2 linked regions of the Homo sapiens genome follow. The protein of the gene in region 1 purifies or fractionates together with the protein of each later gene. This does not show direct contact. Each region holds a gene or a part of one and is shown on either strand. Other genes may lie near its edges. The genes, in order: EXOC3L2 and MIPEP.

Region 1 (2,864 bases):
AACAAACAAACAAACACACAAAAAAACTAGTGTACCAGATCAGCACACCACACCACCATGTGACAGTGCTGGATGGTGGTGGCAGTGGTGGTGGCTGCCGGAGCAACGCCAGTCCTTGCAGTGCTATTTGGGCAGACACATTCTCAGACATACTCAGAGAAACAGAACCCCAGAAAAACAAGGAGTGAGGCATGAGCGGGTTTCAGTTTCAGCACTGAGGGTGGGGGTCCTGGAATTGATTCAGGGTGGTCAGTTCTGATTCTGGGGGATAAGGTCATGTCCTTGGGAAGGCACATATTCCTGGAGTCCCATGGGGTCCCAAGAAGTCCCAGTATTCTTGCTGATGTGGAGTTTCTGAACTTGAATATTGGATCATGAGTCAGAACTTGAATCTGTAGCTAAGTTTAAGAGTTTGCTAGCTGGGTTGGGTTTAGGGGGTTGAGCTTGAGATTAGGAGGTACCTAGGGCTGAGGATTTAGGGGGAGTGGGGTACAAGGTTTCTTTCTTTTTTTTACTTTTGAAATGGAGTCTCGCTGTGTCACCCAGGCTGGACTGCAGTGGCGCGATCTCAGCTCACTGCAACCTCTGCCTCCCAGGTTTAAGGGATTCTCTTGCCTCAGACTCCTGAGTAGCTAGGATTACAAGCGCCTGCCACCACACCCAGCTTTTTTTTTTTTTTAATGTATTTTTAGTAGAGAGAGGGTTTCGCCATGTTGGCCAGGCTGGTCTCGAACTCCTGACCTCAGGTGATCCGCCTGCCTTGGCCCCCCAAAGTGCTGGGATTACAGGCATGAGCCACGGCACCCAGCTGAGAAGGTGAATTTTAATCACGAGCTGAGGCTTGGGGTGAAAAGGAAGATCCCAGGGCTGGTTCTGGGGTTGGTTGTAAGGGGGATTTGGAGATGGTTGGAAGTGAAGTTCTGGAGGGAGCTGGTATGAGGTGAGGGCCTGGGCAAGGGAGCTGATTGGAGGGAAGGCTCTGGAGGGGACACAGAGGCCCCAGAACTCAGGCAATTTCTGGGATAGGTGAGGGGGTCAGGTGGGGTCCACGGCTGGGTTGGGTGTGTGTCTAGAGCTGGGGATCTGCATGCACCTGTCTGTTCCTCTCCCCACAGGCAGAAGCACGTGGCAGCCCTCCTCGACATCCGTGGCCTGCGCAACACAGCCGCCCGCCAGGAGATCCTGGCCGTGGCCCGGGACCTGGAACTCTCTGAGGAGGGAGCCCTGTCACCCCCTCGGGACCGTGCCTTCTTTGCAGACATCCCTGTGCCCCGCCCATCTTTCTGTCTCAGCCTCCCTCTCTTCCTGGGCCGCCTCCCCCTCTCCCGGCTGGCCAGGCCCAGTTTGGCCTGTCTGCCTCGGCCCCGGCCTCCGTCTCTAGCGCGACCTCGGGCCCAGCGCTGAGGGTCACCCAACCGCCGGCCTTAGTGACCCCATCTATGCTGCTGACAAGCCAACCTCCCGTACGGCGCCCCTCCTGACTCCCTGCCTGGGACCACACACCCCTGGGATAGAAAGACCCTTAGATGTCTTTTCACCCAACCCCAAACTCCCTGTACAGAAGGGAAACAAACGCCAGGCACGGTGGCTCATGCCTGTAATCCCAACACTTTGGGAGGCTGAGGCCGGAGGATTGCTTGAGCCCAGGAGTTCAAGACCAGCCTGGGCAACATAGTGAGACCTGCCCCCTATCTCTACAAAAAATAAAAAATTAGCTGGGCACGGTGGTGTGTGCCTGTAGTCCCAGCTACTGGTGAGGCTGAGGCTGGAGGATCACTGGAGTTCGAGGCTGCAGTGAGCTATGACTGTGCCACTGCACTCCAGCCTGGTCAACAAAGCAAGACCCTTTCTCAAAAAAAAAAAAAAAAAAAAAAGGTAGGGGGAAACAGAGGCCAAAGAGACAAAGCATTTTCCCAAGGCCATGAAGCCTGTTCCCAGCACCTCCCCTCCTGCCATAGCCCAGAGTGGTGAGTGTCGTTCTGGAAGTCTCTACAGAAATATCCCAGCTCCCCCGCCCCTTTCCCTCACCTCAAGGTCTGGCCCCAATCCAATGTATTAAGGAACGTTCGATACTTAGAATAAAGAGGTTTCTATTTAACACAAGGAAGGGCTGAGTCCTGAGTGTGTTGTGGGGAGGAAGGACCGGGGAAGCAGGGCCCCGGGCCAGTGGCTTCTCACACACCCAAGGCCGGGCTGGGCTCCAGCTCCTGGGCAGGGTAGTGGAGGTAGAGGGAGGCTGCATGTGCTGGGAGCGACGCCAACCCATGTACACCTCCTGGCTGTGTGGCTCTGAGGCCAGGCCTTCGCCACTCTGAGCCAGGGTCCCTCGTCTGGTCAATCTCAAAGTGCCTGTCCATTCCTGGTCCTGGTGGCTCCATCTTGGCACACCCTCCCCATCCATCCTTAGCCGGGAAGCTGCCCTGTCAGGAGAGGAAGGAGGTTGGGGGCAGGGCTGGCGGCATCCAGGGCGCCCTCCTGGGTTGACGCAGGAAAGTCTCGGGGTGGGAAAATTTCCAGCCTCTCACCCCCAGCCCCGCCGGATCCTAGTCCCCACGGAGACCTTGAGGTCACCTCCCTGCTGACTCCTGCCCCTCCGGCCTGGGCTGGACAGCCCGTGATGGATGTTTCCTGACTTGTGGGATTTTTTGTGTGTATGTGGTTTTTTTTTTTTTCCCTGAGAAGTCAGAAAGAGGAGGCAGCCAGGGGTTAGCACTGGGGCTGGGTTTGGAACTTCACGCATGCACATTTGAACTTGGGGAGGTAGAGACGAGGGACTCTCGGAGCCCAAGGCTGTGCTTCCTGACCCGAGGCAGGAAGCTGCCCCTCTCTGGGCTGAGGTTCCTGTGCCTTTCTGGGGGAATTGC
Region 2 (3,038 bases), on another chromosome or scaffold:
CCTGATTCACCAGTTGCTTGACACTGGTATGTCACTTATTAATTGTACCTGCACTTACTCATTCTACCTTCATTGCCAAGCCAGTCCTCTGTGTTCTGAGTCTATTTGCCTAAACATTCAGGAAAAAACAGTACAGATAATTACATGTATTTTGGAAACCACACTTGGTTTGTTGGTTGCCTGTAATTGACTATTTAAAGTGCATTTTCTAAGCCTACTTTAGATAGTGGTCTTAAGAAATGGTCATCATTCTTAAAAGAACTATAAGTGTAACCTGTCTGAAGACTGCTTCAAACTCTGTCTTAAACAATTTTGCTTTTAGTTAATTATTTAATTAAACCAATTAAAGATCCATGGAAAGAGGGAAAAGCTCAACAGGAGAGTGGTTATACTAAGGAAATGCCCATACCCTCCATTTAACAATGCCATGTAGAAGTGTTGTTGTTACTAGGTCAGAGATTTCCATGTGCTCAAATATTTGCCAAACAGGTGAAAAGCCAGAATAATTAAAACAAATTATTTATTCCAAGTTCTACCAGTTTAAAGTTTTTCAGAATTACAGAAGCGAACAATGAAATCAGAAACAAGCTCTCACAGCTGTAGCATTTATAACAAAGTCATTATCTACATGACCTTGATTTAAGAGGTGTAGAGTGTTTCTTTTATTCAGAATCCATGAGGAAAGTTTCGAAGTCCAGATCCAAGTCGGAAACGAGGGCACTTACGAAGTCATCAACAGAAGGACACTTCTGAAGCATACCTGCAAACAAAGGAAAGGTCAGAACTGCGTTCACCAGGAGGCAACAGGAAGCACAAAGACACAAAATCAAATCCACACACTAGAGGAACACTCTGGCTTTCTGAATTAAGACTCTGGCTGTATAACCTGAATGCAAGAACATTTTATAAAGTCATGGGCAGTGTGTGGGCCTTGGAGCTATTTATAATTTTAATGTATTTTTACTATCAAATCCATCCTTAGCTTAGAGATTTAGGCCTAAATATATTTCCTAAGGGCTATTATTTTTGCATATATGACTATACCCTTAGAGACTGATATTAGAAGACTGATTTTTTTTTAGTTATCTTTGACTGGGATGATTCACAATTTAACAAGTTTAATTACATATCAAGTTTTGTTATCAAGTTCTATACACTTTACAATCAATTAGATGTTAATTCTTTTATAGAAATCTTATATCAGAATCAAGTTATTGGCTCTCCTCCAGATTTCCCTGTCCCAGAGAACTCCTAGCTTTGCAACTTAGTAACTGTGTAACGCAGAAGTCACTTAAAATCTCTGGCATCCAAATTTCCTACAAGGTTGCTATAAGGATCAAACAAGAAGATGTAGTAGAAGCAATGAAGCACCATGCCTAGCATATATTAAGAATTCAATAAAAAGCTGAATTCATGTCCTTTCTTCACTCTAAAGAAGCCAAAAACAAAGATTGATGCAATTAACCTTATTGCTTTAACCTACATTCTTGGCAGGAAATGCTAACTGAAGGGTTGAACAGGCTCTATATACTGATATTTACTTTGGGAGATGAATTCTGTAAAACCATTTTCAAAATCAAGGCATTAAAAGATTGCAGGAATCCTCTATTGTTCTCTGAACCTGTATTGCAATTCAGTGAACATGAAGGAAGCATCTGTTGTGTGTAAAGGATCAGGCCAGGTCATGGGCATACAGGTGGGCAGGCTCAGTCACAACATGAAGAGTGAGAGTAGTCGGCTGGGCAGAACTGCATATCCATACGGCAGAAAACTAGCCTTGACTCCTACTGCATACCATACATAAAAACTAATTTGAGATGGTCACAGACCTAAGTGTAAACACTAAAATTATTATCTTAAAAAAACCGCATGAAGTATCTTTGTGACCCTGAAGTAGGTATAGTTTCTTAGGACACAGAAAGCAATGCATAAAAGGAAAAAATGTTAGATTTCATCAAAATTTAAAATGTCTCTTGAAAAGAAACCATTAAGCCAATGAGTAGACAAATGATAGTTGGAAAAAATACTCACAAAACATATCTCACGTAAGACTGGTATCCAGAAAATATAAAGAACTCCTTTGACCCATTGTAAAAATATGTTTTTTTAAATTACAAATTGACAAAAGATTTTACCTTCACAAGGTCAGGTTTTTCACAGAAGATATCTGAATAAGTAACACAACTAATAGGCACTGAGAAGACATTCAACATCATTAGTCACTAGGGAAATGAAAACCAAACCCACAATGAGATACTATTACACATCCACCAGAATAGCTAATTTTTTTTTTTTTTTTTTTTTTTTTTAAAGACAAGGTCTTGCTCTGTTGTCCAGGCCTGGACAACACAGCATGTGCAGTGGTGTGAACATGGCTCACTGCAGCCTCGACTTCCCAGGCTGAAGTGATCCTCCCGTCTCAGCTTGAGAGTAGCTGGAACCACAGGTGTGTGCCACCATGCCCAGCTAGTTTTTAAACTTCTTGTAGAGATGGGGTCTTGTCATGTTGCCCAGGCTGGTCTTGAACTTCTGGGCTCAAGCGATCCTCCTGCCTTGGCCTCTCAAAGTGCTGGGATTACAGGCGTGAGCCACTGTGCTACACCAAATGTTGACAAGGCTGTGTGCAACCTGAATTGTCATACATTTGTGGTGAAAGGATAAAATGATACAATCACTTTGAAAAAAGGTCTTAACCAGTGTCTTACGAAACTAAACATAGACCTACACTAGGACCCAGCAATTTCACTCCCAGGTATTTATCCAAGAGAAATGAAAGCATATGTCAACAAAGAAACAACTTGTACAACCCCAAGCTTGAAACAACCCAAGTTTCTATCAATAGGACATGAATACACACACTACAATATATTCATATGATGGAATATTACTCAGCAACAAAAAGGAACAAACTATTCATACATGCAACAACACAAACGGATCTCAAAAACATTATGCTGAGTGAGAGAAGCCTTATGTGAAGCAGTACATACTGTTTGATTCCATTTATATGAAGTTCAAAAAGTTAGTCAAACCAATCT

What was found.
Region 2: the proteins of EXOC3L2 (region 1) and MIPEP purify together in Homo sapiens (affinity purification with mass spectrometry; 2 studies listed by BioGRID and IntAct, with this or other methods). This does not show direct contact.

What each region holds. Positions count from the first base shown.
Region 1 is NC_000019.10:45,211,609-45,214,472, reverse strand, and holds the end of EXOC3L2 (exocyst complex component 3-like protein 2), read left to right. Parts: intron 1-1,115; coding exon 1,116-1,404; 3' UTR 1,405-2,103; downstream 2,104-2,864.
Region 2 is NC_000013.11:23,729,686-23,732,723, forward strand, and holds the end of MIPEP (mitochondrial intermediate peptidase), read right to left. Parts: intron 761-3,038; coding exon 663-760; 3' UTR 504-662; downstream 1-503. UniProt on the Homo sapiens protein: Cleaves proteins, imported into the mitochondrion, to their mature size.